Linked DNA regions of Homo sapiens. The protein of the gene in region 2 interacts with the protein of the main gene of each other region in a pairwise test. Each region holds a gene or a part of one and is shown on either strand. Other genes may lie near its edges.

Evidence for each region.
Region 1: the proteins of SATB2 (region 2) and FOXP1 come close enough for resonance energy transfer, tested with the Homo sapiens proteins (one study listed by BioGRID).
Region 3: the proteins of SATB2 (region 2) and FOXP4 come close enough for resonance energy transfer, tested with the Homo sapiens proteins (one study listed by BioGRID).

Annotation. Positions count from the first base shown.
Region 1 is NC_000003.12:70,961,501-70,971,765, reverse strand, and holds part of FOXP1 (forkhead box protein P1), read left to right. Parts: intron 1-960; coding exon 961-1,030; intron 1,031-5,709; coding exon 5,710-5,876; intron 5,877-10,265. UniProt on the Homo sapiens protein: Transcriptional repressor. Can act with CTBP1 to synergistically repress transcription but CTPBP1 is not essential. Plays an important role in the specification and differentiation of lung epithelium.
Region 2 is NC_000002.12:199,341,234-199,351,498, reverse strand, and holds part of SATB2 (DNA-binding protein SATB2), read left to right. Parts: intron 1-2,325; coding exon 2,326-2,798; intron 2,799-10,265. UniProt on the Homo sapiens protein: Binds to DNA, at nuclear matrix- or scaffold-associated regions. Thought to recognize the sugar-phosphate structure of double-stranded DNA.
Region 3 is NC_000006.12:41,540,427-41,551,311, reverse strand, and holds the start of FOXP4 (forkhead box protein P4), read right to left. Parts: upstream 4,932-10,885; 5' UTR 4,445-4,931; intron 3,852-4,444; exon of another isoform or gene 3,767-3,851; intron 2,935-3,766; exon of another isoform or gene 2,691-2,934; intron 2,466-2,690; exon of another isoform or gene 79-2,465; intron 1-78. UniProt on the Homo sapiens protein: Transcriptional repressor that represses lung-specific expression.

The DNA.
Region 1 (10,265 bases), on a different chromosome or scaffold from region 2:
GACCCTAGAACTAAATACTTGTGCTTAACCCATAATCCCCCCTCTCTCCCCACCCCAAGTAAAAAGGGAATTTTTGGTTAGTTAAAATGTGTGTATATACTATTGGGGTAGATTTCTTATTTGTTCACTCACTATAATAATACAAATGTAATGAAGTGAATGACTAAAATGTTCCAAGCATAGTAAAGAAATAGGTCATATTGCATACACTTCCTTTAAAGACCACTGATAAATGTAGGTAATTGCCTACTGGGAGGCACCCTTTTCCCTCAGTATGCCCTATGTAATTTTTTAATATTTTTATCCTTACGAGGCTAGAGATTTTCTGACAACAGTATGTTAGTTTCATTTGGTCCGTGAATGGAGATGGCAGCAAATATTCTCAGACCCTCCCAGATCTGGCTAAGACATCCCCTTATTTAGGAACGACCCTCCCCTGGCATACCCTACTCTCCATCGCCTGTTGGCAATAAACGTGCCTTGTGGATATTCCTTAAAAGCCTTCCTGCCATCCCTCTAGCAGTCACTGTAAAGTTCAAATCTCAAAGATGCTTAGGAGCCAAGATTCTCTCTGCTCGTGCCCAGCAGCCCCTGCTGTGAGCTCACTGCCTTCCCCAGCACGACCTCCTAGGCTGCTGCCTTCCTTTCTGTTGGAGTCTGGAGTCAGGCTAACTCCTAAAAATCTGCAGAGAGGTCTCTGGAGGGAGGACCCAAGCCTGTTACTACCTAAGCCAGAATTTTACACCTAGTTTCCTTGAATAGAGAAGTCCAACCCCAGAGGTGTGCACACACACCCGCCCTGCAAATCAGTGACGGGGAGAAAGCCTGACTTTTCTTGGGTTTTGCTAGTGGGGGAAATTGCTCATTTGGAAGGGCACCAGCAAGCTTAAAACAAAACTTAGCTAGGAACTCAGCAGTCGACTGTGTTTAACTTTGAGTTTTTATGTTTTTCTTACACAGTAACCCTTCCCTTATTAAAAACATGCAGAGCAGCCACGCCTACTGCACACCTCTCAATGCAGCTTTACAGGTAAGATTAACGGCCGTCCCGAATATGCAGCAGAGGCACAGGTCTCCCCTACTCATTTCAAAATATATTAGCCTTGCTCTAATTAGATATTAAATTTTAATTCCGTTAAACTTTTTTCTTAAGTGCACAAAGCATCATACTCCCTGGAGGCAAACACATCGGGCTGCTTCAGCGTTAGCGGGATGCTTAGCATTTTGAATATTGTGGCAAAAAAATTAAAAGTTCACTTATTAATATTTATCAGCAGTATCATAATTTCCATCCTCTTATTTCAGAATTTCACTTGAGGCAAAAATACCACAAGTGTAATTACTCTAGCACAGCTATTAATGTGCTGGATGATAGGCCACTGCGTCACATGACCTTCTATTGTTCATGGGTTTAAAGAGAAAGCAGGGCTTTGTATTTCTTTTTCTTCTTTTAAAGTCGACTGTAGCATCTTGGCTTTTGTCTGGGGTGGGGAGGATCTGGGGTCTGGTTCACTTTGTAAAAGTAAACCATGTCTGTTTAAACAATAGAGGTGTTTAAGAAGACTCTTTAGTTTTCCTGCAGATTGTTCAAGATTACATGATAATCACACGGAGTATTTATTTCCTACTGACAAACCAAGTACTTGTTACATCACCAATGGTACCAGGAGATGAAGACGCGGGTTTTGAGCAGGAGCGAGATTACCACCCAAAAAGGAGCTACCTGAGGCAGCCCAGCTTCTAGCAAACTTTTTACATGTTGCACATTTCAGTTCTTAAATGAAGGCTACTCCAGTGTCATTTCATTAAAGTACCTGGGTGTAGTACTCAAGTCCCCCCTCAAGAGTTCATAAGTAAGCAGTATCCTTTTGGCCAGTGGTCCTGTTTTTGCCCCTACCCAGACTGTTCGAGAAGCATATTCTATAGATAAATCTGACATTTGTCATCCAATACCATTGCAGTCCTCTGCAGCATACATTCTCAATGGGGGCTGTATCACCCCTAGATTGGTTCTGAGATACTGCAATGTCTTGTGTCCTTCCAAAGGACCATAATACTTGAGCAAATATGAACATTTCTTGGGGTGAGGGCAGAAAGAGAGAAACAAAAGTCTAAAAAGGGACAATAATGAAAAAACAGTTGAGACCTTTAGTATGATGGGAACAGGATGAGGAAGGAGGAGATACTGACAGGAGCCCTGGGTCTTGCTCTGCATTAAACAGATATTTATGGACATTAAACAGATATTTATGGAGCACGACTCTGTACCCTACAGGCCCAGAATAGTCTTAAGGCTCCTGGGAATTGATGATAGGCCATTTACCCAGTTTCAGTTTAGAGGCAGATTCACTGGCCTTAGCATTTCAGTAATTATATTTATTTATTTTTAGCCTGAACCAGATTTAATAGGAGAAACTACTTTCTGCGTTTCTTTTAATTACTTGTAGTTTACACAGTAACTTTAGAAGAGTAAATGAAAGCATGCTTCGATGCTGCCACTGTAAATACCATTCATTAGTAACTTATTTTCCCTGGAGTCTTGTGAAGTGTGAATTTAAAGCCTGCTCTATCTGGAATATGGAATAGTATTAAGATTACAAGCACATTTTATATTCATGAGCCGGAAAGGCAAAAAAAAAAAAAAAGTGATCCTCCATCCTCTGAATTCTCTTAACTATGTGACTAATTTCAATTAGTATGCTTTGTCATTACAGAACTGTTCAGGTTTCATCTCTGAACATTTGCTTTTGGCATCTTCTTCAGTAGCCCAAAACTGTCCTGCCGTTTTCCAAGAACACTTTCCGTCCATAATGAGGCAAGGGGAATAAATTGATACAAATTCATGATTTGAGAAGTGGATTGTTTCCCTCTCTTCTACGAGTTTGGATCCCTGATCAGTAGACAGACACATAAGACAACTTTCTACTGTGCAAATTAAATAAGGATTCTGCCAGCAGGCCTTCCTTTCCATTACCGCCTATTTCCATTTTTCAAGACAAGTAAAAATAATAGTGGAACAATATCTTCAAAAAAATTACTAGAGCAACATAATGCATGATATACAATATATAAAATAGGACAGCAGAATCCACTACAGAAATAAAACATGGGACTTGGGACAGATTGCATTATGCTCTGAAAAGTGAAGTAACTAAGGGTAACCGTAAAGCTTCGTATTTATAGACTGCCTTTCCCCTGAGGATCTCAGAGTGGTTAATGTTCCAGGAGCGAGGGTGCTTATGGACTTCTGCACCATTACTTAAGCAACTTCATTTTTTGGCAGAGGTGCCAGCTTGATATGAAACCACATGCTGTGCAAGGACCATTTATATAATTAACTCCATTTTTGTAACACACCTGCTTCTAAGTGGACATCAACTACCAAAAAAAAAAAAAAAAAAACACTTTGTTAGGCAGAAGCAGTTAGTGAAAATTTATCTAACCTTGGGTGGGTTGCTCTGATCACTTGCTTAACAGAGAGCGTGTTCAAGAAGCTCTCTTGCGGATCAGGCACTGGGATCTCTCTGCAGCCCATTTGATCATTTTTTCAAGGGACAAGGCTGGTTTTCATCACTTACATCGTTCTTGCCTGAGAACCCAGGGATCAGTATAAGTGCTTGCCTTTGTATGCGTTTCACTACTGTGGCTGTTGGGTCTCAGCCCATGTTCTATGATCCAATCCCAATCAGCAATGGCCTTGACCTAGAATACTTTGAGAGCCAAAGAGAATAAATACTCATCCCAAGAAAGTTGCCTTCTCTAGAGGATGACAAACTCATCCCAATGAACACGTTCATATCAGCATTTCAATTTTGTCTTCACAGTTTTTGACCAGGGAAGCTGCTAAAATAATTAAGCTAGCAGCAGCCCCACTTTTGCCACATTCTGACCTTGGAATAGTGAAATTGTCTTATGAGAGCTTATCTTATGGTATTTCCAGTGGAAAGACACTCAGCAGAATTTCTGTGACTGAGACAACAGTGGTCACACCTCTCTCAGATAAAAGCAGTTAAGATGCTTGTCCAACTGCAGTTTGCAAAAAAAAAAAAAAAAAACAAAAAAAAACAAAAAAAAAAAACAAATAATAGTAGTTCTGGCAACTGCTCTGCCAAAAAAAAAACAAAAAGAAAGAAAGAAAAAAAGCTTTATCGCAATTATAAAAGAGCTGTTGGAAAAAGTACTTGATGCAAATTATTTGACACACTGTAGGAGAGTGTGGAATGTTCACATTTGCTGTTCATCAAAATGAGTTCACCACATTTGGAAATAAACACAGGATTTTCCCCCTACTTTTTAAAAGAAGGCAGTTATACACATTTACAAGTAGAAGGAAGGAAAAGCTGTGGGCTTACATAGGGCCGAGCTTTGAAACAGTCCATTATCCAATGCTGTGTTTGGTGAGTGTGCACAGGACTTCTAACACAGGGCTTGTACCTAGAAAGCCCTGGCTTTGCGGTTTGTACAGTGAGTGAGGCTGCGATTGTCATACTAGCCAGACAGATTTCTGCAGCCCAGCTTTGCACTCTTTTGGCTTTTACTTTCTTTCTAGAGCCAGGATTTCTAGAATAGTTCGGACTCTTGTATGACTGGCCAGTGGAAGTCACTATGCCAGATCATCTTGTGAAAAGAAGTACATCTAATGTACTTTTCTTCTCATTAGGATGGAAAAGCAGGCATAGTCTAGTCTGCAGGAGGACAGTTGTGATAAATCTTGGTTTAATTACAGCTGCCAGTTTTTGAAAGTGTCCTCTTTAATGAAATGAAAAGTCAGTGGGTCGTAATCACCACCTGGATGAAACAAATTTTTGGGTACCTTACTTAGTCCAGTGGTATATGTAACTAGCGTCTGCATTTCAGACTTGGTGTCCCTTTTATTCAAATGCAGTATAACAGGAAGTGAATAATATCCTACCTATCCTAAATAAAGTTTAGGATTTCTTCTTTTTCATTTCCTCACTTTTTTGCTGACACTCACGTGGAGTAACTTTGTAACCTTTAATATTGATGTACTTTGGCACCAAAAATAAATATGAGTTAGAGCTTCCCTTTGCCAGAGTTCTTTAGTCCTAAAATCCTAGGCAATTGGTCGGACTCTGAAACACTACGTGGTGTTTCCTTCAACCAGTTATCTCAAACTGCACTAAACAGATTCAAAAATCATTAAAACAGAAATGATGGGAGGAGATAAAAAATTGATTCCAATTCTATAATCTCTTCCTTTTCTATAGGATCTAAGAGGTAAATGTTTATGGAAGTTCTCATAAGTTTGAGCGGTGCGGCCAGGATAATCTGATCAAAATCTCTAATATCCAATACTGGAGTCATCAAAATGGATAAAGAAATAAAAATTCTATTATATTTCACTGTGATCTGGAAATATTCAGCTCCTCTTAAAAACGCATCCGACATAAACCTCATATTCGAAAGCCCGTCTAAACCATGTGACTACCAAGCAGGACCAAATTGAGTCCTTCCTACCCACAGGCACTTGGTCCCCCCTGGCCCCCAGTTAGCTCTTCAAAACCAAGCTTGGGACAGGTGCCACGAGTCGTTTTTAAAGCAAAATCTTTCAACACCTCTTAGAAACTTGTATTTGCCAGCCATGCTACAATTAACTCAAACTGAAGATTATCGAGTACACCCATAATTAGTAGTTTCCTTGTCTTACATACCCTGTGTCTTCATAAATTTTCTCTTGGTTGATGACAGGCTTCAATGGCTGAGAATAGTATACCTCTATACACTACCGCTTCCATGGGAAATCCCACTCTGGGCAACTTAGCCAGCGCAATACGGGAAGAGCTGAACGGGGCAATGGAGCATACCAACAGCAACGAGAGTGACAGCAGTCCAGGCAGATCTCCTATGCAAGCCGTGTGAGTATTGTCCACCCAACAGGTCTTTGCTATCTGACCCTAGTCTCCCTAGGTACACGCAGGGAGACAGCCCTTTCTCTGGGCTTTATATACCTTTTCTGTAATTTCTGATTTCCCAGAACCAAGCTAGAAGTTTGTACTTCAAGAAATGTTCAGCTTGGTTAGTGCATAAAAGGACTATTTGCTAACTTTCCCATAAAAGCAATTCACAGCAATAAAATGAGAAACAGGTTTGCTTTTTTTCCCTCTGCTTTATCACATCCCAGGCCATTATTTAAGCCACACTACTTTTTCCTCCTCAAACTAATATGCATTCCTATGAAAAAGTTTGCAGTTTGTTCAACTTTCGGGCATGTTGAACCTAGCCGAGAGAAAAAGATGCTTGTTTACTTGGTGGTGCACTAAGGTTCACCACGAACACGCCGCCGCAGCATTATTACCAACCATTAATGATGGCACAAATGAAAGGCGGCATGATTTATAGATTGCTCTTAAAATATCAAAAGGAAAATTAATAGGAGCATTATAGCAGCAGACGGCAGTATAATGAGTGCACATATAACTGAATGAAGTGATGGGCGATGGCTGCCCATGCTGAATGTGAATGGAACCAGGACTGCAAACCACAGGAAAGGCGGAGGCCAGGAGACTGTGATGCCCCTGTGAGTGGGTGATGGGAGAGAACTTGGTGTAACTATAACACCCTCTCTCCCAGGAAAAGTTTTCAAACAGAGCGAAGAAACCACATTATTCCAAATGATTGGCTTTGCAGGAGATGCTGTGGGATGACAGTCTCTCCCTTTTAGTGAGGTTCTTCAAAACTGTTGCCCACTTTAAGGTACTAACCCATTTCGTGTTTGCAGTACTGTCAGTTCCTAGAATAGGCTGCTTGTCTACACATTACTTCTGAATTACTGACCAACATCTTATTTTAAGATAATTTAAGTGATCGGAATGGAAATTATGACCTGTAACAATTAGGAGCATATGGAATTGGCATCTAATGACAAAGAAAAAAGTGTTATCTGCCAGCATAATTTGGAGGGTACGTGGAAATCTGAAATTTGATTTTCTAGCATTTGAGTTTCATCTCCACAGCACTTCAGAAAGGATCTTTACTATCCTTTCTGGATATGGAAATAATCATTTTTAATTTATATGAACAGTATCTTAGCATTTGCTTCACAGCATTTTAAGAGTGTGTTTATCTTTCACACTGATGCTGCTATATTTCATCCTTTCCAAAGCAACTTAGTGTTTCCGATTTTCCTGTTACCACATTTGTATTCATCTTAAATCATTGTCATGACACGAGTATTTACTTAGATACTAACGAAGTTCAGAGCAAACGTAAATTGGTATAAGCTACTGCAAGAAATACTCAGAACAAAAATGTCTGGTTATTGAATGGAAGTGATGCTATTTCTCATAATCTGTACAAACTCCAAGTTTTTGTTGACATATATTCCTATTAGTATAAAGAATCACTAAAACAAAGAGATACTTGGATACAAGCCACAGGCACCAGTTCAGAGTGATGCTGATTTTGCTGTACGAAAGAAAGTCACTGCAGGGTTAATTTGTTTAACAAATTTGAATTAACCCCAGTATTACCCAAACCATGTTTTACAATAGTCTTTGTAATTTTTGATGAAATGAAGGTTTCAACTATTTTTTACAAGAAACCCTACACAAAAATGTCAACATGCGTTGCTCAAATCTCACAGGTTTGTGCTGTTTGCTAAATGTAATTATATGTCAACAGCAGATTCCCTGCGCCTGCTATCTGTGTAATAGACTGTTACTCTTTTTGACCTCATATTTCCATTAAGAGAATTCTGTAGTGACAAGAGTTTCCATTCTTGTCCAATATGCATTACCCTGCTATGATGCAAATTGTTTTTCAACTGTTCCAGTCTATTGGAATAAATCAAGCCATAAACTTTACGGCACGGCTTGAAGGACCTTGTTAGGAAGGCGGCCTAGCTAATATTGAGTGTTGAAACAGAACTCTTCATTCTTACCCTTTCTGTGACAGTCAGATACCACTACGTTTCGTTCGTCCTTTGAAACACTAGAAAGTGGTCACATAATTATGGCTTTGGGGCATTCTACTTTTATCCTGATAGGCGCTAAAGGAGCTACAAAGCAAAATACTCCATGCTGTGCAGACACCCCCAGAACACAATGCCTTTAAACGCCAGTCAGCTTTATTTTAAAACTCTTGTGTTCCCAGAGTGGCTAAACAAAGGAATTACTCAGATGTAAGGAGAAGGGAAATGTGTGGTTTTGCACACAGTTATTCAGCGGTAGCCCTTTCGGAAGTAGGAGTTGGAGAGAAAGGGTGGGGGCAGTGTCTGCAAGGAGAGGAAGGTGCATCATACACAGCCCTAACTTCCAGGAGACACGGTGAGTGTATGTGAAGTGTAGTGTCTTCAGTAGTCTGCATCTCATCTCAAATGTATCTTTCGTGGAATCCCATCCTCTTTTGTTCTTTGAAGTGCTGTGTGCTTGTGCTACACGTTTGCCACACCCCAGGGGTATCTGCCGGCATCAAGAAATGTCCCGAAATCGGATTTCACTTCTCTAAAGTTTCGAAACCTTACTGTCTAACCTGGTTGTGTCATCAGGTGGTCACACAGTAGATCTAGCCAGTTAACATTTGTTGGGGACCCACTCTGCATCCACTCTGCATGAGGCACTGGGAGTCGAGCCTACAGGCATGACAGGATCATTACCTCTGTCTTGTGGATAGTAAATAATCCTCATGAATTTTGGCTACCAATTTAGGGGGAAAACGTGTTTTGTTTATTTGTTTTTTCACTTCTACAGCTTTTAAAATTGATACCTCGTAACTACATATTTTGGGGGTACATGTGTTATTTTGATACATGTATACAATGTGTAATGATCAAATGAGGATAATTAGGTAAACGAAATATTCTCTGATGTTGTGAACTGTGTTTTGTGGGGCTTTACATGCACCTGATTTTTTGGATAAGGTTAGCAAAATATTGGTCAAAGTCTAAAATTATACAGCAAGAACTTCATTAAGATGGAGATGGATGGTTCTATTTCTTCTAGGGGTCCTCATCCTCCTTCCCCCTCCCCAAGGTCTTGTATGATCTTACATTCTTCTATCATTCAATTCTGGGTTATAAACATGAAAAGATTGATAGACCTGATAGTTAAGAAAGTAGGAAAATGTTGATTTGGAAAACAACATTTGAACCTCAATCAGCATATAGCTAAAACATAAATTTCAGTAATTTATGAAGTTGCAGTTCTCAACAATGAAAGTTTGAAACAAACATTAGGAAATGTTCACCATTGTCAGTAATCTGAGAAACACAATTTAAGGTAACCTGAGCTTACCTTGTACCTGCTAAGCAACAAAATATTTTTCACAAATAATGCTTGCTGCTGATGAGATTGAGTTTAAATTGATAGCCCCTTTGGAAGTTAATATCACAATAAATCATAGGAACCATAAAGATGTTTTGGCCTTTGCTCTAACAATTCCATTCTTAGAAATTTATCCTAAGGAGGTAAATCAACAGAAATAGAGTAGAAAGATTAATGGATAAAAGTGGTCATTGTATTATACAAACAGTAAAAGAGAAAGAGAAAGATGATCCTCAAATGCCTAGTATTCAGAAACTGACATATGTCAACACAGTGGAATCTCATCTAGCCATAAACATTATAAATTGTAAAGCTAGGAAAATTTAAAAAATAGCATTCCTGCTGAATTTACAATATTTAAAAATATGACCTCAAATGGAAACAGATTGGCAAAAATAAGAAAACTGGCCTTAACTAAGGGTTTGTGTTTTTTAAAGGAATCATCATCAGCATAACTAATTCTTCCTAAAAGAATGTAGGGTATTTTAGCAGAGCTGGTTCACAGGTGTGTGACATGCAGTCACATAGGATCTCATGCCTAAAAGGACACTGCACTTGATTTTATGTGCTTTTATTACCTTTTTATTTAGAGATAGGGGTCTTACTGTATCACCCAGGCTGGACTCGAACTCCTGGGCTCAAGTGATCATCCTACCTTAGCCTCCCAAGTAACTTGGACTACAGGCACACACCACCATGCCTGGCATGTACTTGCTTTAATGCCATTTTTGTCTTGAAATTTTAATTTTTGAGCCAAAGACCCCAGATTGTCATTTTGCACTGGGCTTCCAAAATTATGCAGCCAGTCCTAATTCTTACTGCTGAAACACTAATACAGCCATTAAAAAAAAAAATCCCCATCCGTAATGCTTAATACAGACTGCTGGGAGGGTGACTCCCCATGCAGCCTTCCTTGCACTGATGTACAACTGTTCCTTTTAAATAAAAATATCCGGCGAGCCATGGTGTCTCACGCCTGTAATC
Region 2 (10,265 bases):
CTTAACCTTATGAAGGAAAGGTGATACGTAAAACAAATGAATTACACTATAAGGATTAGGCTGGGTGCAATGGCTGGTGAGGCTGAGGCTGGTGGATCACATGAGGCCAGAAGTTTGAGACTAGCCTGGCCAACATGGCGAAACCCCGTCTCTACTGAAAATACAAAAAATTAGCTGGGCATGGTGGTGCATGCCAGTAATCCCAGTTACTTGGGAGGCTGAGACAGGAGAATCACTTGAACCCGAGAGGCAGAGGCTGCAGTGAGCTGAGATTGCGCCATTGCACTATAGCCTGGGCAACAAGAGTGAAACTCTGTCTTAAAAAAAAAAAAAAAAAGCAAGCAAACATTGTAAGGATTAAGTTAGAAATTGAGCCCTAAAAGAAGTTGGAAGTAAACTCTTGACTTATTTGGAAGTTTATAGGAATGTTAAGCAAGAAATCGGGTTTTCTTTTTTTTTTTTTTTTTTTGGAGACAGAGTCTCGCTCGTCACTCAGGCTGGAGTGCAGTGGTGTGATTTCTACTCACTGCAACCTTTGCCTCTGCCTCCTGGGGTTCAAGCGATTCTCCTGATTCAGCGTCCCGAATATCTGGGATTACAGGCGCATGCCACCATGCCTGGCTAATTTTTGTATTTTAAGTAGAGACGGGGTTTTGCTGTGTTGGCCAGGCTGGTATCAAACTCCTGACCTCAGGTGATCCACCAGCCTCGGCCTCCCAAAGTGCTGGGATTACAGGTGTGAGCCACCATGCCCAGCTTAACTGAGTTTCTTTAAAAAGCAGGAAAAAGCACTGTACATGTCTAAATATAAGGTGATACCAAGACGGGTGTTCACATGTTTTCCTAATGGGATATTTTGCATGCATAAAACTTGTAGACATGGATATAAAATAGTTAAATATCTACCCACATTTTAATGTATTAATTTATTTCCACATATACATTTTTAAAGTCACATATTACATGAAGTATTAATTTAGAAATACTACTTTTTTCCACCCATACAGTTCATTGACTTTATTCAGTGCTTCACATGTGATTTGGCATCAGTGTCTGTCATCACCAACTCCCCTGTTTTCAGTCATCTCACCCAGTTGTCCAGCACACATCATTTCTGCCTAAATTTTTTGAGACTCAGTATTTTTTTTTTTTTTATAAAACCATGATTCTGTCACGGTTAACTATATGGCAAACCACACATTCCATTTGTATAATAGGGAGACAGTTACTTTTTATATGTGTTCTATAGGTGAATATGTTTGATCTCTAGCTTCTTAAAGTTATCTTTAATGGACTTTTGCATAGTCATATCCAGCATTTGCAATTATAAGAAATAATTTCTAAATTTGTATGGATTTTTTGCTTTGAAAAAGAGATCTTGTTAGATTATATTACACCTATAAGCATTTAAAACTAATAATGTTGGGATTGCTTCAGCCCCATTTCTTTTCTCCAAACCAAACTTTGTTTTTCATGATAGAGTAATACAGAGACTTGGATAAGGATTTGGCTATGAGGTGACTGTCTTTCCTAAGACATTATTTTAGGGAAAGAAAAATACTTGCCTTATGCTTGTATATATATGATACTTACTTTTCCCTTTCAAAGTTATTCTTTTAATCTTTATTAAAGCACAATATAATGTAATAAAGCAGATAACCTGAGGAGAACTTCATTTAATGGCAAGTTGAGGTGATGTTATTAATTTTGTGATTTTTTTTCTTATCTGAGTGCATAGCACAATGTTTAAAATATCAATTTCTTAAAGAAACATTTCTATAAAAAAGATAGCAAGTGAGTCAATAAATGGATATACTATGTGGCAGACATTTTTAAATGAACATTTCCATAGCTGTATAATAATATTTATGTGAGCTTTTTACTAGAAGGTAGCACTTAATTTGGCAGGAGATGTTATCCTTGTCATTTCCTGATAACCATTAACTACATACTACAGAAGATAGGAACAGCTGGTGCTTTTATAACAAAGGTTGATTGGGGAGATGATAGAGCTTGGGGGATCTAAGAGGATTTAGAATGGTCAGTGGTTTCTGTCTTGGCTATTTAAAGAAATGCTTACTTTTAAGAATTTTAACTAATTGAAGTGGCAAATAATTTTACTTTCTTTCATATGTTCCATGAAAAAAATCTATTGTAACATTTAGCAGAAAAGAATATCACTTTTATGCTGGAGCTTCCATCGTTGTATGAAAAAATGTTTATATTATTAACATGCCAAAAGTATGATAATTCAGTTCTACATATATTAGCAATAAATTGTACCAATGAAAATAATGATTAATTATCACTTTTATCTCTTAACAGTGGAAAGAGTGGAACGAGAAAACCTTTCAGACTATTGTGTTCTGGGCCAGCGTCCAATGCATTTACCAAATATGAACCAGCTGGCATCCCTGGGGAAAACCAACGAACAGTCTCCTCACAGCCAAATTCACCACAGTACTCCAATCCGAAACCAAGTGCCCGCATTACAGCCCATCATGAGCCCTGGTCTTCTTTCTCCCCAGCTTAGTCCACAACTTGTAAGGCAACAAATAGCCATGGCCCATCTGATAAACCAACAGATTGCCGTTAGCCGGCTCCTGGCTCACCAGCATCCTCAAGCCATCAACCAGCAGTTCCTGAACCATCCACCCATCCCCAGAGCAGTTAAGCCAGAGCCAACCAACTCTTCCGTGGAAGTCTCTCCAGATATCTACCAGCAAGTCAGAGATGAGCTGAAGAGGGCCAGTGTGTCCCAAGCTGTCTTTGCAAGAGTGGCATTCAACCGCACACAGGTACAATTAGCATTAAACACTGTAATTAACAGTAATACTGGGGACAGAATTGAGATAGGTTATAATTATTTTTATCTCTTTAAAAAGCTTTATGGATCTCAGGACATAGAATTAGATTAATTAATAATCCTTAGTTAATGAAACGCTATTACCATTGATCCATGCATGACCATGATTAATTAACTAATTGATTAATTTTGATGAGGTAATGGACATCTTTGAACCCAACATGCAACTCAGGACCCCAAATGTTACTAATGACTTGGGTATGTACTCTCTCATCCTCTCCATTTACTGTTTGCAGATGTAACCCTGATCTTGAATTTTGTGATTATCAGTCTCTTGCCATTTTTTAAAACAAATTATAAAACTATGCATGCCCAGACAATCTATTTTTTTCCCTTGGTTTTGAACGTTATAAAAGAAATAAAATTATGTTTTATAATTTTATAAGTAAAGTTTTATTTAAAAATTTATAAAAATCCTTCAAAACATAAAAGTTAGATTTAAGATATTGATAAAATGATAATGGATAGTTTACTTTTATTTTTAATGTTTGAGAGAATTATATGCCAATTATAACACTAAATGTTGAAAATGTAAACAGTTAATTCACACGTCTTATTTTTATTGAGGGTGCTTATATGTAAGACATTCTTTTCTGCTAGTAGTTCTTAAACTGGAGTGTGCATCAGAATCACCTGGAGGGCTGTGAAACACAGACTGCTGGGCCTCATCCCATAGTTTCTGATTGAGTAAGTCTGAGGTTGGACTCAGAAATGGACATTTCTAACAAGATCCCAGGTGATTATGATGGTACTGATCCGGGGCCGCATGTTGAGAAAAACTTACCTAGCCCTTATATGAGTAAGAACAAAGCAGATGTGCATAATCTCGGGGAGCTAACGATCTAGTGGTGAAAACCAGGTAACCAGATAATTAGAGTAAAATGTGAAGTGTTATGAGTAATGTTGGAGAGTGTAAGCAATAGTTGTGGTGGAGGTTCATGGTGAGCTGGAGGTGAGGAATACTTCCAGGAGAATGAATATGGTAAGCCTTCAAGAAAACAGTAGATTAAAATTTCAGCACCCTCGTAAATGCAAGGCAGGAAGCTAAGCTCTATGTGGGTGCAAAGAGGAAAAAGATAATGGGCAAGCACATATGTAAACAACACTCTAGAGTATTAGGTTGTCAATGGGTTAGACCTTGAAGGATTAATAAAGTACAGCAGGCAAAGATGATGAAGAAGAAGATTATTATTTTAAGGTAAAGACATTCATAGGAAAGATGTTGAGTTAAAAAATGCAGGAATAATTTGAAGACATAAAACAACTGATTTCTGAGAAAAACCCTGTGAACGTACAGAATGTAGGAATGCTTTCATTTATCTGATACCTGTTCAGAGACACATGATAACACACGCTGTAGATGGACCTTACAAATGAAAGAAAGCATGCTGGATTGAAACCTCAATAATTTGGAAAATACAGGAATGTTTCCAAATTTAATGATTACTTCAGAAGTTAAGGGGCTGGGCACAGTGGCTCATGTCTGTAGTCCTAGCACTTTGGGAGGCCAAGGTGGGCGGATCACTTGAGGTCAGGAGTTCAAGACCAGCCTGGGCAAGATGGTAAAACACCATCTCTACTAAAACAGAACAAAACAAAAAAATTAGCTGGGCGTGGTGATGCGTGCCTGTAGTCTCAGCTACTCAGGAGGCTGAGGCAGAAGAATCCCTTGAACCCAGGAGGCGGAGGCTGCAGTGAGCCGAGATCATGCCACTGCACTCCAGCCTGAGTGAGAGTGAAACTCCATCTCAAAAAAAAAAAAAAAAAAAAAAAAGTTAAGTGAAAACTCTCACTGGGGAGAAATCTGATAAATGTTGGTAAATTGGATTGCCTGATGCAAGTTAACACTCAAAAAATGCACCTAAGTGAAATGTTATACCAGTTATAAATATTTTATGTTTATCAGTGGTTCATTGTTAAAGAGGGTCTGTTTACTTTTGGTTTCCACGTCTCTTGCAAGAAAACATTGAGGTAAGAATTTTGTAGATACTCTTTAAGCAATACTGCGTGAGTTAAATAAATAGCGTTTTTGTTAAGTCAGTTAATACATTTTTTCTCTCTTTATTCGAAAGTGTGTTGGATCTCTGGTTGAATTGAAATGTATTTCTATTATGTAGGCGATTTAAATTTTTATTAGTTTTGAAATTGTCGTATGATTAATGAGTCATTGAAAAATGAGTTTTTGTGCTGGGTGCGGTGGCTCACGCCTATAATCCCTGCACTTTGGGAGGCTGAGGGTGGCAGATCACGAGGTCAAGAGATCGAGACCATCCTGGCCAACATGGTGAAACCTCGTCTCCACTAAAAATACAAAAATTAGCTGGGCGTGGTGGCGTGTGCCTGTAATCCCAGCTACTTGGGAGGCTGAGGTAGGAGAATCACTTGAACCCAGGAGGTGGAGGGTGCAGTGAGCCGAGATTGCGCCACTGCACTCCAGCCTGGCAACAGAGCGAGACTCTGTCTCAAAAAAAAAAAAGAAAAAGAAAAAAAGAAAAATAAGTTTTTGTTAATGGTTGGGATTTTCTTACTGGCCTCGTGGCAAGTTTTGTTATCTCTTATTATATATATTCTACCTTTTTATGGGAAAAACTACTCTTTTTGGTGTAAAGATATTTTTTATATTTTCTTTGCTTGTAAAGAGTTATTATCAATTTGTAAGTATAAAAACTGCAAGTATAGTTGGTAGTTGATAAGAAAGGTAGATAATAAAACTTAAAAGGGATGGACACAGATTGAAAAAGGCCTTGAGTGCCAAGACAAGAGCTCTGAACTTTAACAGGCACTGGAAACCGTCATAGGTCTTAGGTAGGAATATGCTGTGCTCCCACCATCTTAATTAGGTCTTATGGAGGTTTGATAGCAAGAGGGTAGGAATATCATTTAGCAGGCTACTGCAAGTATCCAGGTGAAATGTACAGAGGTTTTGAACTAGGCTGCTGGGGAGGGTGCAGAGAAGAAATATTTTGGAAATAAAATGGACAGAAAGTGTATAAATGGATAAAGAGAGGAATAGAACTGACACCAGGCTTCAAGCCTGATGCCTGAGAATAAAGGTGTAATTATGAAGGGAATCCAGGAAGACATGGAAAGAGTGGTTGGAGTAAGGTTAAAGTGATAGTTTTAGATTGGGTTATTTTGACGTTGAAGTGTTGACCAACTTCTTAAGTGAAAATGTGCAACAGTCATTGAAAATATGAGTTTGTGGGGGGAGGGGGGAGGGATAGCATTAGGAGATATACCTAATGTAAATGACGAGCTAATGAGTGCAGCACACCAACATGGCACATGTATACATATGTAACAAACCTGCACGTTGTGCACATGTACCCTAGAATAATAAAAAAAAAGAAAAGAAAAAGAAAATATGAGTTTGGCGCTAGGAAGAAGAGTTATCAGGACTAGAGCAAGAGATTAGAGATGTTGTCACAGAGCCTGGGACAGGAAATGGAAGAGTCAGGGGAGAGAAGGGGAGAAATCACTGCTATCACCACCACCAGCAGCAGCAGCACCAGCCCCAGGAAAGAGAGAAGAAATGCCAGGAGATGGGGGCAGGTGGAGAAGGAAGAAGAGGGAGACAGTAGTGAGAGTATAGAGGACATGCGTGGAGAGTTTCCAGAAGAAGACTTGTCTACTTGTGGAAAGCTGAGAAGTTAAGAGAGAGAGGCTTAAAACCATGTCATGAGATTTGGCAGTTGGTTGGGAGAAGACTGGCGAAGTTTAGAGTATAATTTCATTAAAGTAGTGGGGACAGGAGCCAGAATTCAGGAGTTAAAGAGTGATTAGCTGTTGAGGATGCAGAAGTAAGTACATGACACTTTCCAAAATTTGGTGTTGAAAGGGAGGCCAAAGTGGGTGGACAGTTTGGAAGTGATAGGGGGTCAATTTGAGATCACAGGATTTGGGAAGTTCACAGCATGAACTGGTGATGATACCAATCATTGTGGTTTGGTAACGGTCTTCAGCGGTGCTGGAACTTCAGGACTGGGAGCAAGGAAGAAACACAGTGGGACTGTTTGAGGTTTGGTGCTGACATTTTCGGTATGGCAGGAGGCCAAGAGAGGTAAAAATCTCTTGTTCCCTTGACTCTTAGCTAATTTATACATTCTAATATTGACAGAGTCTGTTAACATCACTTGAAAATGAGTTTGGAGGTCCTGAGAGACTCTCACATGTTCCAGACATCACTCTTCCACTTTCTCTCGTGATTCAAAGTACTCGGGCAATATTTGTGTGTCCATAGTTGTCTGGACTGGGGTTATGAAAGGCTCTGGTCCTTTTGAGAAAGTCTGTTGCATACTACTGCAAAATAAAAATTGGAAGGATCTATCTTTTGGCTCTGTATTTTGCAGTTCTCTGTCTCTGTGTGTGTGTGTGTGTTGTGTGTGTGTGTTCGTTCATCTGTCCTTCATGTGCATGAATAGGCATTTCATGGCTAGCCAACATTTTATTGCCTGGTTATGTATACAGCTCCTTTGGCTAAGGATAAAATTGAAAGCATGGTTGTATTACTTTGGATTTTAGAAGCAAATACAGTATACATTTTATCCAAGTAGCATGAAGCATGAGAGAAGACTCACAATGAGGCAAAACAAAGACAGACCATATTGGCGAGAGTGTATACTTTGCCAAGGACCTAGACTCCTGGAGGTCTGTCTTCTCCCATATAATCCTTTTTGTCTATTTTTATGGATTAATGATTTTTCTTTGGCGTTGCCATCTTTCAAGTGCCAAGTTATAAAAGGTCTAATTGAAGCATGAAACACATTTTATTATTTTCCTCCTGCCATTAAATTTGTAAGATGGCTACACCTAGAAAGAAACATTCACTTTCAATCAACATGAGCTTGAGTTCATGGGCCAGCCTTGAGGATATCAAATGGAAACTGCGTAGGAATGTATGAGTATTTCCTTTTAAAATTCTGCTTTTAATTTAGGAAAGCTTTTCATCCCTCTGGGATCATAACCTGTTGTGTATAAAGCCCAACCTAATCAAGGTAGATGGTACTGACAGAATGACATAGTTTGAACTTAAGCAGGAGGTCAGCAGGCAGATTGTTTTTTGCTGTATGTACTGTAGTCACTAACAGCCGGACTGGGCAGCTGGTTTTACCAGCAGCATTGTTAAATGGAAAATATGGTATATTATGCCCCATGAAACCAACCATAGATTTTCCAAACGTTTAGACTTTTTTGAGTGGAGTCAGATGTTTATGGATGATATAATGACTTGCCAGCTATAATAAACAAAAATAAACATTGTAGCATATCCTCAGTCTATTGAATATTTTCCAGAAATAGTTCATGATCTCTATTATTCATATATTATCAAATTCAATAAAAAGCATTTTAATACATTTTGTCACCTTATATTTTGTGTTCCTGGATTTGTGCTTCATGGTTATACCAAGAGCAAATCGTGTGTGTTCATTTTGTCACCTTATATTTTGTGTTCCTGGATTTGTGCTTCATGGTTATACCAAGAACAAATCGTGTATGTGTGTGTGTGTGTGTGTGTGTGTATAAAATAAAATAATATGTAAACATTTACAAATAAACCTGGAACTGTTAGAAAAGAAAACCCTGCCCAGTTTTTCATGTTTAAGATTTCCAGATGAAAAACTTAAATTCATAATAAATAACATTTCAAATGTCAGTTCTCCAAAGAGAAACTATTAATTACCCTGTTATGGCTGATTCATTGTCACCATATCATTTGATGATGTAAAATAACACAGTTAAGAGAATAGAGCCATATTTTCAAGAGCTTCTTTTTAGTTTATTTTTATTTTAATAAATATGTCTTTTAAGAATATAAAATGTATTTGTTTGATAAAATGATGCCCTATCCACACTTTATGACAAGGTCATGGCATCTGCTGGAGTCAGAGATAGACAGCCTTTTGCCAATATTTTATTATTTATTTATTTTTATCCTTACATTTCTCTTTTGGTTTGCTAACAGAAACATACATGGTCTAAACTAGGAACATAAAATTGAGTCACTTGTTCTGGGGTAGGGATACAGCACATTAGAGGTCATGCAATGCCAGGATATGGGATCTCCAGCATGAGCCTGAGACTAACGTGTTTCTAGACACAGGGTGTGGCTGAGCCTTGTGTCCTGTCTGTGCCATTAGGTCATTATGACCTTATGTAAAATAAGTAAAATACATTCTGAGTATCACCACTCTTTTTTTTTTTTTTTTAGCTAGTCTTTTGAAAGATGAGATTAGCCCTGCTTTCTGTCTCTGAAGACTTTTATGGCAAATGAGACCCAGTGAAAACAGTAAGGTGAAAGTGATAAGGCATTTTCTGACCTGGTCATTAATATTCAGGCAATCCCATGATACATTTCTAAGCACTTTAACCTGTGGCCACAAAGTGAGATGGATGATTTTACACTGGAGGAGCCTCAGGCAGATAACATCCCAGCTCTGTTTTTGATGCTCCCCCGCCTCCCCGCTCCCCGGCCCATGGTTTTACTTCTGAAAGCCTGCGTCTGCTGTTAGGCTTTTCCGTTAACATCTCTCCAGTTTGGGCTACTGATTTTCTCTGCTCATCCTGGCAGAGTTGGAAATGCTTACCACCATCTGATGGGTACAGGAGGATGACAACAGGGCAGCTCCCAGCCTCCTGTAGTAGCGACAGCTCTGAAGCATAACTTCCACTCCAGAGCGCTCTGCAGGACCAGGCTGAAGCTGGGACTTTGCTTGCATTTCTTCTCTTCCCTGTCCTGCTTCTCACACTCCCTCAGCAGTTTCCCTTGGAAGTCCATCTTAATAAATCACTGGTGTGGTAGTCTCTATCTGAGGATCTGCGTTTTATCCCAGATTATAGGTCCACGCCATTTCCAGCCTAATTGGTCATGCCATAGGGTAGTAGTTTGAGTAAAACCTATCTATAGTTTTATGTCTACTTTCTCTGCAAGTCAAAAGCCATATGTTGTTATGGAACTAGTATAGAATTTTTTACTCCTTTCTTTTGAAAATATTATCAGTATTATTGTTTAAAACCTATGCCCCCTATAGCTCTGCAATTCAATGGGTCAGTATTGATATAGTCCAGACTGACTTATGGATATTGAATGTGGAGGAAAGAGAGAGAATGAATAAAAATGAGACAGAAACAGACGTTGGATGTAAGGCCTTATGAGATTTACCAAACTTGACTTAAATGAAAACTGTCCTTACTGGGTCCAAATGGTGAATTATGTGATTCTGTGGCTTTGAGAGTGGCTTTGCCTCTCGGCCCTACTCCTCCTGTGCTCCTGCAGTGATGCACATAGTGTCTGTGGGAATAAGCAGCTGTATCAGGTTTCCTTTTTTTTCCATATTCGTTCTTGCTTATATCCTGAATTTATTTTAGTGCTGACATAGTTTGACTTACTAGGCCTATGTAC
Region 3 (10,885 bases), on a different chromosome or scaffold from region 2:
GCATGTCCAGCCCGGGCGACACACCACAGCAACAGTGACTCCACGGTCCAACACCTGCGGCCCTGTCCAGATGTGTACCTTTTGTGCCAGGAGCTCTTGTTTTCTAGATCAGGCAGGTGTGCCCTGCGTCCAGGCTCTGCAAGGGCCCAGGAGCAACATCTCACAAGACCACAGCATCCAAAGTGGCAGAATTCAGAGGAAAGAGGGTTCCCGCTGTGATCCCGGCTTGGTGGAACTGGCAGTGGACTGAAGGTGTGTATTTCCACAGAGAATCCTGGGAGGCAACGCTGAAGGGAGCCAATAACTTCAGGCTCAAGGGGAGTTTCCTTTTGCTTCTTTGAGATGATCCATTCAGTGATAGGTCCCAAACTGGTCTGAGACTTGCTGCCAAAATCTTCCATAAGGACGTGTAGGCTAGGGTTTCCAAACCCTAGAAATCTCCCTTTCTGGAGAGAGGGGTTATCAGTCATTTTTCCTCCTCTGCATTCTGGGGAATTCTCTCTCCCATTTATGTGTGTCTCACAAGAACCTTAGGAGTGCCTGGGGAATGCTCCAGGGTTGTGTGCAGGTGGAAACACCAGATTCTGCACCTACAGTCCCCCTCTCCACTTAAAGGGAAAAGAGAAAGTATTCACACTAGAAGGCAGGCGGCCTAGGCCAAGCTTATGGAGGAAGGAGGGAGGAATGGCAGCTCCTCCCATCCCTTCCTTTCTCCCTTCACCACAGCACACGCTCAAGCCCTACTGGTTATACTGGGAGTCGAGGGCCCCATATTTTAGTTCCAGCTGTGCTACCATGTAGCTGTGTAACCTTGGACAAGTTGCCTCTTCTCTCTGGACTTCGTTTTCCCAACCCATAAAATGAAGATTAATACTTCAGTATTTCCATATTCAACCAACATGTGGCCTGGCAGTGCTAGCAAATTAATAATAAACGCCATCCCTTGATCAGTACTACCATGCACCCGGCACCGTGCAAGGTACTTGACATCTGCTCTCTCATCTAACTCCCAAACAGAATCTCTAAGGTGGGTATTATGACCTACTTTACAATGTAAGAAAATTGAGGTTCGAAGAGCTTAATTAAGTTCTCCAGAGTCCCATCTCTAATGCCAAGTTCCAAAGCCTTTTCCACTCTGACACATGTTCTGCCCTGGGGAGGCCTCAGTTCCTTGCTCTGGGTTCCAGAGTTCTGGAACCAAATCTGAGGAGGTCATTCCAGCCAACGGAGCCTGAGAGTCCTGTCAAAAATAGTACCTGCCCTGCCTTGGTCTAGGGAAGCTGGAGCGTGGTAAGATCTGTGAGAAGGGAAACTGTGAGGAGTTTCTTGGATGGAAGAAATTATTATTTCACACAGTTTAGGCTATTCAAAAAATAAAGACATTGTGCCTGCTTAGGATGGGACTGGGGGGCTTGCACTGTGGCTGGAGAGACAGGAAACCGCCAAGGCAGTGGGGTAGGAAGGGTTAAGATGCAGGGAAGGCTTCCTGGGGAGACAACCCTTCCCTCCCCTTGCACCTCACAACTCTCCTCTGAAACAGACACCCTGTTCCCATTCTTCTCCCCTCCACCCTCCCCCCCACCATGTGATATCTGTCTCTCCTACCCCAACAATCTGAGGTCCAGACAGCAGACCCCAGCCTTCACTGCTTGGGTACCCCAGTACTCAGCCTGGGACCTGCCCAGGCAGAGTAGGGGCTCAGCAAACATTTGGGGGAATTACTGGATCAAAAGCAAGCCTTCCTCTCCCAGTCCCTCTGCTTCCCTCCCACCAAGGAAGAGGTATGTTTGGGGTAGGGGCCCAGCAGGATATGCACATTCCTGGCAAGAAGGGACCTACCTGCCTACAGCCAGAACGGAAGTTTTCGGCTCTAAAGGCAGAGGAAGGGGGCTGGGGGCGTCTAGGTGTGAGGAAGATCCCTACACAGAAAGGGACAGGAGCAGGTCCCTTTGCAAGTGGGACCCTTTGCAAATGCTCTGGCCCTGGCGTTCTCCAGCACTGGGGTCAGGTCTTTCTCTCTCCAGGGCTCAGGGGTTCCCCAACTCCGTAACTCCTGGGAAACCTGTCCAGGACAGGGAGAAGGACAGAAAACTCCACCCAGGCGCCCAGCCCTTGGTGCCAGGAGAGAAGGCTCCCATGGTCTCCCAAACTTAGTAGCAAGGCTGGAGCCAGGATAAAGTGGGTCCTGAGGGTCCCGTCCCGCAGGAGAGATTCAGCGCTCACCCTGGCCCTGGGTGTGGAGGCTGAGAGGGGGCAACCACAAAACCACCTCTTCCCCTTGCCACCTTGCCCCACTGACTAGAGTGTGAGTGACTCCCCCAACTCACAGTTTTTTGAGTTTCAGATCGAAAGGGCACCATGGGAGCCAACAAGCTGTCCAGGTACCAAGAGCAGAGCCCCAGTATCCTCCCTCCAGCCACCAGGTAACAGAGCCCCAAAACCCCGAGGCAAAAGTTTCTCAAGTTGAAAAAAAAAAAAAAAAAAAAAGGCCTTCAGACTTCCCCACAGCGGTTTTCCGCGGGGGCGGGCAGAGGTTTTCTGAGGCCGTGGCTCCCCTTCAGGCGGCTGGGTCCACTGGGCCTGGCCTTCGGCCCCTGCACCTACCGGCTGGTTCGCAGCAGGGGGAGGGGGTGGGGGAGAGCTCAAAATGCCCGGTGCCCGCAGGGCATGGCGGTCAGGGGGCCCTTCAGCCCTGGTTTTCTGTGGAAAGTGAGCTTCTGGGTTCGACAGTGGGACCGGCACAGACCTTCCCGCAGCTACAGGCCATACGACAACCCCGCTGCTCTTTCTTTCTGCGGGCACTCGGGCCAGTCCTAACAATTGCCCCTCAAGCTGTGTGTGCTGCCCTAACCCTCAATCCCGAACCCGAAACAGTGCGTGCTGGGACGAATCTAGGCAGGTCTCCGAAACCGGGGTGAAGATGCTGAAGTTCAGGTAAAAACCCGCATTGGCCAAAATGCTCCCGGGCTTTCTCGGGAGTCACCCGAATGGCAACTTCAGGCTCGGGTTTGGTTCTCCGGACTCCCCACCCCTATTCCCGGCTCCAGGCGCCGCGGTCAACCTGCGGGGAGACTAGACGTTGGGGTGCCAGACACGCGGTGATCTCCAGACGCCCGAAACGCCAGGCGCCGAGTGAGCGAGGAAACCAGCCGGGAGGGGGCTGGCCAGGGAAGCCGGGGAGCAAAGGAAAGAGCGGGGCGCGCTCTGGGCTCAGGGTTCCCATACCCTTTCCCCCCAACCTAGGATCGGGGTGGGACGCAGGTGTGTTCACGAGATCGCCCCAGTTGGGGGACACAGGGAATCCGCCGCCGTCTGGGCCTGTCTCAAAATCCGCATTCCGCGAAATTACCCGGTCCTTTATGGGGGCGGCCGGGACCCCAGGTCGCATTCTAGCGCCACTGGCTGTGCTCTGACGCAGCCCAAGGAAGTTTGTTTGGCGTGGATGAGGAGCCCGAGGCTGAAGCGCCGCCGGTCAGAGAGGTGCTGGGGTTGTCCAGGGGAGATACCAGACTCCTCAGTTGGGGCGGGGGGGGGTCCTGCTCGGTCACTCCGGGCTCCTTCCCTGGTGGCCTCCGGGCCCCCGTGGCCGCCCTCTCTTCCCCCCTTAAGTGGTGAAGCGGGAGCTCTCTCCACAGCGGGTGAGTAGAGGTGTCAGCCAGATCGTTTCCCCACCCTCCACCTCCGGCGCACAAATCACAGGGGCCATTTCCAGACGCTCTCAAGTCCCCAAGAAGTTTTCCGCTCTATCCCCGAGCTGACCGAGCGATGGAAAAGGGGCTGACTGGCCCTGGCACTTCCGAGGTGCGACCTCAGCAAGACAAGTCCCCTCTTCACCAGAGACGACACGGCGGGTAGGACCGCGATCCCCCGCTCTCTTGCCCCCATTTTCATCTGTCTCCGGCGCGTCCTGGGGAGTCCGGTACCGACTAGAGTTGGGGGGAGCCACTTCCCTTCCCAGCTCTGGAAAGTCTGGGCCGGGAAGTATTCTTTGTCTGACTCGGGGCGGGGAGGGGGTCGCGCCCCCGTACACCCCATTCCCAGAGGCCCGGCGGGGAGGGGGCGGGGCCCAGATTCTTGGGGAAGGGCGGGCCTCGGTGGCCTCTCCGGCCGCCCCCCTCCCCGCCCCGGCCTCCGGCTGCCCCCACTCCCGCCGCGCCACAGCCCCCACCTGTTCCCGAGGCAGCTCCGGCCCGCTGGGGCCCGGGCCAGGGGCGGAATGTCGCGGCTGCGCGGGGTCAGTGCGCCACGGCCGGCCCTGGCTGGAACAAAGTGCGCCGGCCCGGGCCCGGCTCCTCCTGGCGCCCGGCGCCCAGCGCGTCTCGGGCGGGCAGTTTGCAAACACAAAGTGAGCCAGCGAGCGGGCGAGAGAGTGCGCGAGCGAGGGAGTTGGTCTGGTCGCCCGCCCAGCCCCCACCCACGTCCCTGGGCCCGACCCGCCACCTACCTGTCCCGCCCGGCCGCTCCGTGCGGGCTCCGGCCCGTCAGCCCGCGCGGGGCATGGGGCTCGCTCCGGTCGCAGCCCGGGCCCGCCGCCGCCCGCCGGGGCTGCCCTTCCGCGCCGCCCCGCGTCGCGCAGCTCCCGGGCGTCCTCCCAGCGCGCCGGGCCGACCGCCGCGCGCCTCAACCCCGCCGGGGCATGGCACTTTGTGGGCTGCTTGGCTCGCTCCGGCTCCGCTCTTCCTTCCCGGTCCTTCCGCGACGCTCGTCAGCTCGCTCCGGCTCCCGGGCTCCCGGACCCCGGCGTCCCCGCCCCCGGCCCAGCCCTGGTTCCGGCCCGGGCTCCTCCCCGCCGCGCCGCCGCCGCCTGCGCCGCGCCCTCCTCGCGGGCTGGGGGCTCCGTCCCGGCCGCCGGCCGCCGGCCGCACTGTCCGGTCCGCAGGGACGGCGGGCTCCGGACTCCGAGGGGCTGCGACTGAGCCTGGGCTGCGAGTGGCTGCGAGCGGGCGGCGCGCGGGCGGGGCGGGAGGGGGCGGGGGAGGAGGAGGGTGGAGAGGGAAGGAGGGAGCGCGCGGAGAGCGAGGGAGGAGGGAGCGAGAGAGCAAGCGGCGGAGGGAGGGGAGACCAACTTCTAGTGCTACCATAATTCGCCTAAAGCAGGTGCAGCAACTTTCACCCCGCCTGGCAGCCCGCTGAGAGCGAGAGAAAACCACGTGCACCAAACTTTAGGGGAGGAAAAATGGGAACGTGGGGAGAAGACGTGAGGCGGCAGATCTGAAAAAGATGGTAGGTGGAGGGACCCCAGGGATTCACCCTGGCCTCGGACTAATCCTATGGGGCGCTTGCAAACCCCGGCCATCCCCTGGAGTCTGAAGGTACGGCCAAGTCCTGATCCCACACGGTTCACTGGTTCCCGGCGGGCTGCGCTCGGCGCGGGGAGTGGCCGGGGGCCCAGAGACGGAGCCAGTGTCAGGCCCGGGCCCTGTCTGGCCTCCCTCCTGCTCCCCACTGCGTGGGGGCTGGGGGTGGGCTTCCTGAGCCGAGGGTAGAAGGTGGGGAGGCCCCTTCAGGGCTTTGTGAACGGTCACCCCCTGGCGCGCACTGCCTCCCTCTGCGGAAAGGGAATTTCCCGTAAAGTGCTCTGCGAACCAGTGAAGAAGGGGCCCAAGGCCAGAGCCATGCGGGCAAAGTGAAGTGCAAAGTTGAGGCAATTATCCGGACAAATTAGATTGTAAACAAAACCCCGCGTCTCTGAACATCGCTTTTGCCCAGGGGGACTGGAGGGATTGTGGTGGTGGCGGCGATGGTGTGTTTGGGTTGGGAGGGGGAGGTCTGGGTGAGGAAATGCCCACGGCCCAAGGGGGAGGGCTGTGTTGTTAGCAGACGCACCACTCAGAGTCCCGTGGAAATCTCAATACCCGTCCCCCTCCCCGCCCCACACACGCCGGAAACATCTCCCATCTGTCTGCATGTGTTGGGGGTGGGGAGAAGTGAAGGAGGCCTCAGGGGTCCTCATGAAGTACCCCAACCCAGCTCAGTGATGCCGGGTCCCCATGACCAAGGGAGGATCCTGTTGTGGGATCAGGACAAGAAGACAGTGGCTCTTGAAGCCTCTCCTGGCCCTAAATCCTCAGGCAGGTGGACAAGAGGCTGGCATAGTATGTGAGCCCCTGTGGAGTGGGAGCTGGAAGCCTGAGGTGTGGGGTCGGAGCTGCAAGGATTGATGCTTAGTTGCCTGGGGGGAGGGGATTTCTTGGCCGTTCCAGTGGTCCTTGAAAGAAAAGGGGACCTCAGAGAGGAGGCACCCTCTTGGGTTGTTTTTCATCACTTCTGTCCCTTTTCTGCAATGTTAGTGACACCTGCACAGGTCCACATTTTATGTATTTGCCTTTTTGGGCAGGTGGGACAGGCATACTTAGGTCCTGCTGGAGCGTTTTAGATTTCTAGGTGTGAAATTGTGCAGGGAAGACTCTAAGTGCCATTTATGTGGATATCTCAGTGTCCTTTCCAGTGTGGCAACTGAGATAACCATAGCCATAAGAATAAAATAACAGCTAACATCTGAGTCGTACCACCCACCAGCCATTTAATCTTCACAGTAACCCCAGGAGGGAGATATTTGTATTATCTCCATTTTATAGAAGAGGAAACTGAGGCACAAAGAGATCAAGTAACTTGCCCAGGCTTACACAGCTGCTGGTCAGTGATGAGCCAGATTCCAACTAGAGCCACTTCAGTGAGGACAAGAAAGAAGCTCATGGTGGTCTCTGAAGCGACACTGCCTGCTTGTGGGTTAGCTGAGGGGAAGGATATTCTGGGAGAAAGAAAGCCCTTGGTAGTACTATCTGATTTACCTTCTGTTGAGGCCCAGCTCTGGTGGAAATCATGGTGTGTGGACAGCCCTAGGCCAAGCCTGGAGTGGCAAGTCCTTGTGTCAGACCAGCTGGGCCAGTGACTATGTCCTCAGTTCTCCTTCCTATCCTTCTTGCAGCAAAGGCTGAGGGTGGGGTGAGAACTAGGGGCTTTGGAGACAAAAGAGAGAATTTCTGTAGGGGGGTATTGAATGAGGTGACCTCCGAGGGGCTTCTCCAGCCCTTTTCTGGCTGGTTCACTGAATGTTTTTCCCATCCCCTTCCTGCAGCAGCCCTTGTACCTTACACATGGGCTCACTTGCCCAGAGGGATTGCCCTGGGAAATGCTTCACTTTCAGTTCAGTTTACCCCTCATCTCCAGGCCAGTTCAGTTCCCAGCTCCCTGTGAGCTACAGTGGGGGCTCAAGGCATCAAAAGACCCTGTCTTGTCTTCACCTAAAGGGCATTTTAGCGAGGAAGACAAAGCCTCCCCAAAGAAAGATACAGAACAAATGCCCCGAAATCAAAGAAGCCAGTCCAAAGCCCTTCTTCCTGGTGCAAGAGCTTCGTTAAGAAGGTTGAAAAGAGTAGCCCTTGGCTCCAAAGTGGGAGTGACCGGGAGCAGGCAGGAGGGTCCTCTTTCTGTCCTTGTTCCTTCACAGGACTCAGGGCAGGTGCAGGTGCTTTGGCGGTGGCCGGAACCAAGGCTCATGGCTTGGCCCCTCCAGGGGGGCCATAGTTAAGAGCACAGGGGCTAGAGTCAGGCAGCCTTGGGTTGAACTTCAGCGTCTGTCACTTAACCAGTGTGTGACCCAGGCAAGTTACATGATGTTTGAGTCTCAGTTAACTCACTCATCACCTCACTCATCAATTGGGAGGTTGGGAGGCCTCCTTGGGTGTTTGGGAGGGAGGATGGGCAAAACTTCTAGCCTGGTAATGTGTTCCTCACATGCTTTCCATAATTACTTATTTTCCCCTTGATGAGCTCCAGGGTCCTCACTTAAAATGACGAATGCTGACCTCACAAAACTGCAAATCATGAGTTGCCACTTATTAAATGCTTGCCAGGCAGTCGAATAACGTGCTGTTCAGCTTATCACCCCAGCAATGGTGACTCTTCTGCAGGTGAAGCTAAGAGAGGTCAAATGACTTGCTCAGTTCACATAGCTAGGAAGTAGTGTGGCGAGGACTTGCTCCCAGGTCTCCTGCTTTGAAGCAGACGCCCTTTCCCAAGGTCAGCCGCCACCCTATTGTGGAGGTGAAGTGGGCTGATGGATGAGCTTGTTCCTAGCAGCAGGCCTGATACTCAGGAGTAGGTTGGGGTGGTAGTGGTGTGTACATCTAGAAACATTTGCTTCATTCCCATGGTCCCAACAAACCTAAGCCCAGACAGTTTATGTTTCTATTATTATTATTATTATTGAGACAGAGTCTCACTCTGTTGTCCAGGCTGGAGTGCAATGGCACAATCTCAGCTCACTGCAACCTCCGCCTTCTGAGTTGAAGCAATTCTCCTGCCTCAGCCTCCCGAGTAGCTGGGACTACAGGCTCATGCCACCATGCCCTGCTAATTTTTGTATTTTTAGTAGAGATGGGGTTTTGCCATATTGGCCAGGCTGGTCTCGAACTCCTGACCTCAAGTGATCTGCCCGCCTTGGCCTCCCAAAGTACTGGGATTACAGGCATGAGCCACTACACCTGGCCAAAAACTATTTTTTAGTTATTGAGGAATAAAACTTCATCAGCATAGGCCAGGTGTGGTGGCTCACGCCTGTAATCCCAGCACTTTGGGAGGCCGAGGCAGGTGGGTGGATTACCTGAGGTTGGGAGTTTGAGACCAGCCTGACCAACATGGAGAAACCCCATCTCTACTAAAAATACAAAATTAGCCAGGTGTGGTGGCACATGCCTGTAATCCCAGCTACTCAGGAGGCTGAGGCAGGAGAATCGCTTGAACATGGGAGGTGGAGCTTGCAGTGAGCTGAGATCGTGCCATTGCACTCTAGCCTGGGCAACAAGAGCGAAACTCTGTCTCAAAAAACAAAAAACAAAAATAAAACCCACTTTATCAGCATAATACAGTAACTCCACTCCACTCCACTCCTAAGTATATGCCAATAAAAATGCATATGTACATATGTTCACCAAAAGGCATACACCAGAATGCTAGGCCATCTACTCGCATGTGCTCACTATTCACAACAGCTGTCAACAATGGAATAGGTGACTAAACCACGGTCTTCTCATCCGTGGGCTAGTCCTTGGCAATGAGAATGAGCAAACCATTGCCACGAGCAACAACATGGAGGAATCTCACAAATCCAACGTTGAGCATAAAAGCCAGACACGAAAGAAAACACCGTTTGATTCCATTGATAGGAAATTCAAAACCCAATCCAATGAATTGATGGCATTAAAACTCAGGAGCATGGCTGTTTTAGGTGGGGGTGTGACGGAGGGGCACAAGGGGATTTCTGGGGGTCTTTTTGAATTTGGGAGTTGGTTACATGCATGTGTTCACTTTGTAAACATTAATTGAGCTATACATTTTATGCTTAAAAGTGAAACATGTAAAAATCATTGCTAATATAGGCCTTTCTGTGACTCTCCTTCTTTCCCATTCTCCATCCTTCCCTTGTGGTTTTCTGAAGTTGGCCTTCCCAAGTAAGTTTTCTACTCTTACTCCTTTGGTATTGCTTGGGTATCTCAAAATTTTCTTTTGTTTTAGTTATTTATTTTTATTCACTTTTGGGGCATAGTAAAGTATGAAGCAATTAAAATTTTAAATGAAAGGTAGCCTGCTCCTTGTTTTTACTTGTGTTTTGCTGAACTTCATGCTGCCGAGATGAATGTCTACATGTTTGTTGCATGTGTTGTGTGTGTCTCTAGGTCACTTACTTAAGAGGCTGCTGGAGAGGATTCTACCATATCAGTGTGTCCCATCTTGTTTTGTTACCCAGCCTCCCACTGATGGGGCAGTTCGATTGTAGTGGATATTTGGGTATTATGGTCTCCTTGCTGCAGTAGGCTTCCTTCTGTGACCTCCCTCCCCACTGTGCCTCTCCTTCCCCCTGTGGTTCTTCTGCTCCATAATCTTTTCCCTTTCCCATCTCCCCACTGTTCCTCCATTCCCTGCTTCCCAATCTTTCTGACTGGGAAAGACCTAGGATCTGTGCCGATTGGAGGTGAGGGAGGGATAGGAGAGGGACAGCCTTTTCCTTTTCCACAAAGGCTCCTCTTCCCCAAGATCAATGATGATTTAAAGAAAGAAATATTTCATTAGGGGTTGACATCTTAATGAACCGTGCCAGGAACCTTCAAGGCACTCTCTAGGCTTCCTCGGTTTTAAGCGGGGCTCCTACCTCTGGGGGAGGCTTATCAGTTTACCATATTGCCCCAAGTAGATGACCATGGTAGTGTGGGTAGCTGTGCCAGGGGCTGTGGAGGAGAGGGCCCCCAGGACTGGGGCGAGGCTGGCTTGTCCTTCTAGGTGCCAGGCTGACCGGGTGCCTGGGCCCTTGGAGGTATTTGGAGTTCCTTCTGGGACGTTTAGGGAGTCAGAGACTCAGGCCTTGTCCAAAAGGTGGTGGGCATGGGACTTTGGGCTGATTGGTGGAAAATCAGTCATTAAAGATCAGGAAATAAGCGATAGCTTGACAAGCAGTGAGCAATTTCCCACTAGTTGGAACACAGCATCTTTAGGTCAAATGAGATCCCTACATGGAGGGATTTCTGTGCAGGAAGAGAGCAGGACACACAGAGAGGGGCCAAGAGAGCAGACCCAGTGCCTTATCCCTCCCCCATGCACCCCACCCATGGGGGTGGGGATGGGGTGGAGGATGCATGAGGGTAGCAGAAGCCCCAGGAGTGGGCACAGAGAAAAGAATTCCTTTTTCCTTCATTTAGTTCTTCCTCATCTTTTTTTTTTTTTTTTTTTTTGGACACGGAGCTTCCGCGTTGTTGCCCAGGCTGGCGTGCAGAGGTGCAATCACAGCTCACTGTGATCAACCTCCTGGGCTCAACTGATCCTCCCACTTCAGCCTTCCGATTAACTGTGACCACAGGTGTGAGCTACCATGCCCGGGTAGAGAAGGGGT